Linked DNA regions of Homo sapiens. The protein of the gene in region 1 interacts with the protein of each later gene in a pairwise test. Each region holds a gene or a part of one and is shown in the gene's direction. Other genes may lie near its edges.

Region 1 (3,744 bases):
CTGACGGCCCTTTGTCTCCCTGCAGAGTCCACTCCTGCACCTCCTCCTCCTCCCTCTCCATCCACTCCCTCCTCTTGCCCACCCCCTCCTCCATGGTTCCTGGCTCCAGGGAAACCTGAGACTGTGGCCCTCGCCTCTGCTGAGCGCCACCCTTGGACACAGGTCGTGGGGTCCTCACTGCTTACCTGGGCTCTCTGCACCATGTCCCTTCCTAAAGGAGGAATGAGGGAAAGGAGACCATCGGGACTGCAGACCAGGCCATGCCTCGGCCTCTCTGCTAGACACTCACAGGCCCCATCCCAGGAGGGCAGGCTCTGTGGGGAAGTGGATCACAGTCCCGAGAGCCTCGCAATCCTGAAATATCAAAACCCCTCAAATCTAAAATCCCAAAAAATATAATTCTAGAAAAAATAAAATTCTGTAAAAGATATTTATTTACTTTTTAAAAATTGTTTTGAGAAGGAGCCTTGCTCTGTCATCCAGGCTGGAGTGCAATTGTGCGATCTCGGCTCACTGCAACCTCCGCCTCCTGGGTTCAAGCGATTCTCCTGCCTTAGCCTCCCGGGTAGCTGGGATTACAGGCATGTGCCACCACGCCTGGCTAATTTTTGTATTTTTAGTAGAGACTGGGCATCACCATGTTGGCCAGGCTGGTCTCGAACTCCTGACCTCAGGTGATCCACCCGCCTCGGCCTCCCAAAGTGCTGGGATTACAGGAATGAGCCACCTCGCCCAGCCTATTTACATATTTTAAAGGGATTTATTTGAGAAACATAAAAACACGACGGAACCCTTCATTGGCCGATAAAATAGACAAAAATAACATACATATTTTTTCAAGCACAAATTCATGCACGCTAGCGACAGGCTCACGGGTGTGAGAACTACGAGCAGATGAACAGTGCTCATGAGGAGCTAGGTCAGAAGGGGTAAGACGTAGGTGCGTAGACTCTGGCTGGTGACTGTGTGCACCTGGCTTTATAACTGGTCATCAAAACACCAAGATGAACAACCCACCTTCTAACAAGATCCATCAAAGGCTTCAGGGACCACCACATACGCAGTCGCCCAGAGAGCCCGGATCTGGAGATATTTTACCTTTCAGAAAGGCAGATGAACGAAAAAGCCATCTCTTCCTTTACTGAAGAGTCCCAGCATTCGGGATTATGGCTGTGGGACTGTCCCTTTCTGGATTACGATCCAGACCCCTCTGGGGCAGCCTCTCCTTCACATCGGCGCGGGAAGCCCGCCTGGAGGAGAGGCCTCTCCGGCAGGCGCTGGGGAGCTCCCAGCAAGGCTTGGAAGGAGGCTCAGAGTTTGGAGGGGGAGCCCCCATGGGGTGGGGGGCCTGAGAAGCAGGAGGGAAATAACCAGGGCTCTCTGCACGGTTCAGAAGAGAGGCTTGGGGGCGGGCAGGGGCCCAGGAAGCTGAGTCTGAGCTGGGAAAATGGTGGAGCCCCAGCACACAGTGACCCCCACACCCACTCAGCACACATGTGCATGGACCCCTGGCCCACCAGACCTGAGTGTGCAGACCTAGGCACCGCACTGCCCTCCCTCAGGTCTCCTTGGAACCAGGTGTTGGGGGCGGCTCGAGCGGGGCTGGTGTGAAAGCTGCCTAACCACAGCCCCATCTCCGCCCTGTGCTGCTGAGGGGACCCCGGCTGCCCACAGGTTCCAGGAGGCTCTGTCTGACTTCTGGCTGGCCCTGGAGCAGCTGAGGGGCCACGCTGCCATCGACTACACGCAGCTGGGCCTGCGGTTCAAGCTGCAAGCCTGGGAGGTGAGGCCGGGCAGGGCTCACTGTGCTGCTGGCTGTGGGGTGTCCACGGGCGGTGGCACTGTCACAGGAGGGCCCTGTGGACTGGGGAGCGCCTCTGGCCGAAGCTCTTGGTGCCATGGAATACCCTGGCCACTCCTTGACCCGCAGGAGGTTCTGGTGGCAGTGGAGGTGGAGGGACCATTTTGTGCCATTTCAGGCCACCAGGGGTGGCTCCACCCAGAAGGAGGGCAGAGGCGAAAGGCTGCTGGGTGGGCAGGGAGCAGGCAGGGGGTTGTGCCCACCCTCCACTGTGCCCCCAGCCCTTTCCTGGCTGCCTGGAACGTGTTGGCACCGAAGGAGGGGTGCTGAGAGGCCCCCCCACCAGACCCCGGAAATGCATCGCCCTGAAGCCTTCTGGGAATAGCATTGTCTTTTAGGACAAAAAGATGGAAGGGAAAGCCCACTGGTGTGGGTCTGGAGTCAGGGTTAAAGCCAGGTGGGGGCCCGCCAGCCCAGGACACAGAACGGTGCAGGGGAGGGGCCGGGTGGGGGGATTGGGAGAGGAGCTGGGTGGGGAGACGGGGGAGAAGCCAGGTGGGGGGACTGGGGGAGAGGCTGGGTGGGGGGATGGGGGAGGGGCCAGGTGGGGGGACTGGGGGAGGGGCTGGGTGGGCAGACCGAGGGAGGAGCTGGGTGGGGGAACCGGGAGAGGGCCTGGGTGGGGCATCAGGCCCCTGCCATCACCTTGGCCCCACTCCCAGGTGCTACACAATGTGGCGTCGGCACAGTGCCAGCTGGGGCTCTGGACAGAGGCGGCCAGCAGCCTAAGGGAGGCCATGTCCAAGTGGCCGGAGGGGTCCCTGAATGGCCTGGACTCAGCCCTGGACCAAGTGCAGGTGAGGAGTGCCAGCCCGGTCATGGTTTTGGGCTGGTGCCTACCAAAGCTCCTCAAGACCAATTTCATGAGATGAAGAAGCTTCCGGAGGGAGATGGCCCTAGTGCCCAGTTTCGGGTGCCAGGCGGGGGCTTCCTGTGACCTGCGGGAAGGGGGTGGGGGGCCCAAGCGGCCCCTTCTGCTCCAAGGCACAGGGGCTCTGCGGCTGCAGGCCTGGTTGGTCACCCCGTCTGCATCTGCTGGATACCCACCCCCTCCAGAGACGGGGCTCACTGCCGCCACGGCAGGTCCCCAGGGGCGAGGTCTTCCGGCCCCACCGGTGGCACCTGAAGCACTTGGAGCCCGTGGATTTCCTGGGCAAGGCCAAGGTAAAGGTGGGGACGGCGTCCTGGGGCATGGCGGCTGGTGCTGAGCCCTCGAACTGTGTTCCCAGGGATGGGGGGAGGTGCAGTCCAGGCCACCGTAAGGGCCAGGAGGGTAGAGAGTGGGCCCACAGCCATCCTCAAACTGGCGCCCACGGTAGGGGGGCGGTGCCCCAAATGGGGCTGTGAGCTTGAAGGCAGAGCCCACTAGAGCCGGCTGCATAGGAGGGGGCTCCAGCTCTCTCAACAAGGACCCTGCAGGTGCCACCCCGCCCCCAGACTGGGCCATGGCCACAGCCACAGCCTTGCAGCCTCCCAGAGTCCCTGCGTCTCTCTGCGTCCTTTCATGCCTTTGTGTCTCCCTGTGTCCCTGCCACAGACAGCGAGGTCCCGGGGGGGTCCCTGCGTCCCTGCCACAGATAGCGAGGTCCCGGGGGGGTCCCTGCGTCCCTGCCACAGATAGCGAGGTCCCGGGGGGGGGGGGTCCCTGCGTCCCTGCCACAGATAGCGAGGTCCTGGGGGGATGCCTGTGTGCCTGCCACAGATAGCGAGGTCCCCGGGGGGGTGCCTGTGTCCCTGCCACAGACAGCGAGGTCCCAGGGGGGTGCCTGTGTCCCTGCCACAGGTAGCGAGGTCCCGGGGGGGGTGCCTGTGTCTCTGCCACAGCTAGCGAGGTCCCGGGGGGCGGGGGTGCCTGTGTCCCTGCCACAGATAGCGAGGTCCCG
Region 2 (3,744 bases), on another chromosome or scaffold:
GGGTCCTGGCAGGCGGCGGATTTCTGAGCTGCTGGAGAGCAACCCGGGAAAGCAAAATCAGCCTTGGACTGTCGGGGCCCCTGGGGCTCCTTGCTCCTTATCGAAAGCGAGTTATTAGATAGACCCCCACAGTCCCATTCAGCAGAATGGGAAACTGGACTCAGACACCTTTTGCCCTCCCCACAGGGAGGCCACGCCGTGCGGCTTTGACCACTGATCTCCCACCCGGAGTGCCCGACGCCCAGGGTCCTGCCACCGGGCAGCCTCGGTCAGTCCACAGTTGTGGCTCCTTCCAGGGCCTGGACTAGGGTGAGCACAAGCCTTGAGCGCAACATTTAAGAAGGGCGCCGAAAAGTCAGTAATCAAAAGAAATATCTTGATGCAATGCCTCTTTAAAAGAAAAAAAAATGCAAAAAATCCATGATGAATAAAATACTAAATTTTAAAAAGAGAAAGGATCCGTGCAGTGCCATCGTAAGCCATTTTGGAGCCCGGAGCAAAAGGAAATATCACCTTGCCCAAGCGGTGCCCCTACAGCTCATCCGAGTAGGGCCCGGGGGTCGAGGCATTCGGGGCCCAGTGGGGGACGAGGCCAGTCGAAGGTCTCGGAAGTGGAGGCTCCGCCGAGCTCCGGTCGGGGAGTGCAGGGATGGCCCCCGGGACCGGAGGTGAGAGCTCGGGAAAGCCGCTCCGCCCGGAACAAAGGCATGGGGAGAGGGTGAGCTTGGGCGGGAGAGACCCGGCGGGTACCGGTGCCCTCGCTGCCTGGGTCGGGCTTCCACGCGCGCCCCGGAATGGAATACGCTACTCTGCAGCCTCCGAAACTGCGAGCGAGTCCTGTAACTCCCTTGCTCTGTGATTAATTCTCACTAACAAGACTTGGCAAGATGTCGGGCGAATGATTTTTGGCTTCTGCACGGTCCCCACCGCGTGCGTGCACAAACCCCCAGCCAAAAGCCGCCTCTGGGAAATTAAATGCAAAAGAGAAATGGGGATGGGGAGGGCTGCTACGTGACCAGGAAAAAGGGATGCCCAGAAACATGAATCGGACCCAGAGCTGCTGAAGTCCTTTCAAAAGGTCATTCTTTGCGGGTACATTTTCCAGGGTCCAGCTCCGCAACAAATGTGGACCCTGTCATTTCCTGAAAGGATAATTCACAACTATGCAAGATAGGGTGAAGACGTTTCCCAAACCCGAAAACCTTGTTTTTCCCCCGACCAGGGTTAAATAAACATCTTTTAGGAAGCGTGGACAGGAGCGCAGCCTGCTCTCCTCCCTCGGAACACCATTCCGGCAATTAATGCCTCCCTTTGGGTAGTAAAGCAACAAACCCCACACCTCACTCCGATCCTGGGCTTCGGGCGGGAGGACTTTCTCTTTCATCTTCCAAGCAGGGGGTTGCCCACGTTCTTGGGGAAGCTATAAAACTGATTTAATGGCTTTAGATGAAAATCGATCACGCTAATGCATACGCTAACGTCTCAGGAATCGCATATTCAGAAAGGACTGGCCGGGCCGAAAGCGCACGGGGAGTCTGGGGCTAGGAGGTGTCAGGCCCCGCTGGGTGGGCAGCAGCGCTCCGGTCCCCTCTCCACTTGGGTAACCGGGAAAAACCTACGGGGCTGTCACGCGGGGAAGCGCGAAGGTGCCAAGGGATGAAAGCTCAAACCCGAGCCCTGGCCTCCTCAGCCGGCTATTTCCTTTGGCGCCGCCCGCCTAGCGGCGGGGTGCAGCGGCGGCACAGGTGCCGGTGTCGGGCTGGAGGCGCGGCGCAGGCTGGGCCCGCGGGTAGACGGCGAAAGGCGCCGCGCGCTCCATTCACAAAGTCCGGGCGCTGCCCGCCGCTGGCGGCGGGTCGGAGGCCGCCTCCCTCTTCCTCTCGGCCTCGGTTTTATGAATGGGCCTGATGGCGAGCACCCGGCGCCCTGTTTACTCCGCTCTTTGTGACGTCGAGTTCCCGTGACCGGGAGCCAGCGGCCGCGCTCCATTCAAGCTCCGGGGAGGGGGTGGGAGGAGGGGCCCGGAGGGGGCGGGGAGTCAGCGCGGGGGGCGGGGGACAGCGCGGGGGGCGGGGGACGGCGCGGGGCCCGGAATGGAACGGGGCGGGGCCTGGCGGGGTAGTACCTAGCGCCCCCTCCCCCGGGAGCGCGGAGGAGCATTAATAAACCTCTAAGCCGAGGAGAAAACTCTGGCTGGGGCAGTGCGCTGAGCGCCGGAGGAGCGTAGGCAGGGCAGCGCTGGCGCCAGTGGCGACAGGAGCCGCGCGACCGGCAAAAATACACGGGAGGCCGTCGCCGAAAAGAGTCCGCGGTCCTCTCTCGTAAACACACTCTCCTCCACCGGCGCCTCCCCCTCCGCTCTGCGCGCCGCCCGGCTGGGCGCCCGAGGCCGCTCCGACTGCTATGTGACCGCGAGGCTGCGGGAGGAAGGGGACAGGGAAGAAGAGGCTCTCCCGCGGGAGCCCTTGAGGACCAAGTTTGCGGCCACTTCTGCAGGCGTCCCTTCTTAGCTCTCGCCCGCCCCTTTCTGCAGCCTAGGCGGCCCGGGTTCTCTTCTCTTCCTCGCGCGCCCAGCCGCCTCGGTTCCCGGCGACCATGGTGACGATGGAGGAGCTGCGGGAGATGGACTGCAGTGTGCTCAAAAGGCTGATGAACCGGGACGAGAATGGCGGCGGCGCGGGCGGCAGCGGCAGCCACGGCACCCTGGGGCTGCCGAGCGGCGGCAAGTGCCTGCTGCTGGACTGCAGACCGTTCCTGGCGCACAGCGCGGGCTACATCCTAGGTTCGGTCAACGTGCGCTGTAACACCATCGTGCGGCGGCGGGCTAAGGGCTCCGTGAGCCTGGAGCAGATCCTGCCCGCCGAGGAGGAGGTACGCGCCCGCTTGCGCTCCGGCCTCTACTCGGCGGTCATCGTCTACGACGAGCGCAGCCCGCGCGCCGAGAGCCTCCGCGAGGACAGCACCGTGTCGCTGGTGGTGCAGGCGCTGCGCCGCAACGCCGAGCGCACCGACATCTGCCTGCTCAAAGGTAAACGAGGGCTCCGGGCGCTAGCTGGAGTCGGGGAGATGGAGGGGGTCTTGGCGGCCTGCGCCTTATTGGCACGGGAAGGAGTCCCCGGCGTGATTCGTGGTTGCGGGGATCCCCGCGCGCCCCTTTGTGTGTGTTGGTGTGTAGGGGTTTGCAAGGTTTCTGTGCAAGTGCGAGGTTCAAGTCCTCAGGGAAAGTGCGGACGGGTTTCTCCGGTCACCTGCAATTCCGCACCGTCCTAGCGAGGCCCCGTTTATTGACATTAACGGTCCTAGCCTCGAGGATGAAGCGACTCCTCTGCGCGGTCCATCTTGAGTCCCGGGAACAGTTTCCAAGTACCACGGGGCGCGTGGGGACAAGATAGGCCTGTTGGTTTGGCGTGCTGGGGCCCTACACTGAGCCGGACCGGGAGAATCCCAGAGGTGGAGAAAAGGTGAAGAGGGGTGGGCGCCGAGGTACAATTGGCCTTGCCAGTTTCACTGAAAACAAGACCCTGGCAAATGCAGAAAGGGAGATTGGGTTGCACACACTGTGTAGAGCGATCTGTATCTGCGTTCCCGCTGCCCAACTCCAAGCTCAGCTTGGAAGGTGGCCAATCCCCGTCCCGGGCTAGATCCAGGCTCTGGGAGCGGGAGGCTGAAGGACTGGGTATCTGGGGGACGCCGGGCGGAACCGGTCCTCTAGCGCCTGCAAATCCGGGCAGCGGAGAATGATCA

Evidence for each region. Proteins that work in one complex are often made in the same cells at the same time.
Region 2: the proteins of NOXA1 (region 1) and DUSP4 interact in binary tests that used the Homo sapiens proteins (3 or more experiments, as listed by UniProt).

The regions. Positions count from the first base shown.
Region 1 is NC_000009.12:137,426,359-137,430,102, forward strand, and holds part of NOXA1 (NADPH oxidase activator 1), read left to right. Parts: exon of another isoform or gene 1-1,674; coding exon 1,675-1,783; intron 1,784-2,082; exon of another isoform or gene 2,083-2,258; intron 2,259-2,523; coding exon 2,524-2,658; intron 2,659-2,917; coding exon 2,918-3,025; intron 3,026-3,744.
Region 2 is NC_000008.11:29,349,130-29,352,873, reverse strand, and holds the start of DUSP4 (dual specificity protein phosphatase 4), read left to right. Parts: upstream 1-2,189; 5' UTR 2,190-2,595; coding exon 2,596-3,028; intron 3,029-3,744. UniProt on the Homo sapiens protein: Regulates mitogenic signal transduction by dephosphorylating both Thr and Tyr residues on MAP kinases ERK1 and ERK2.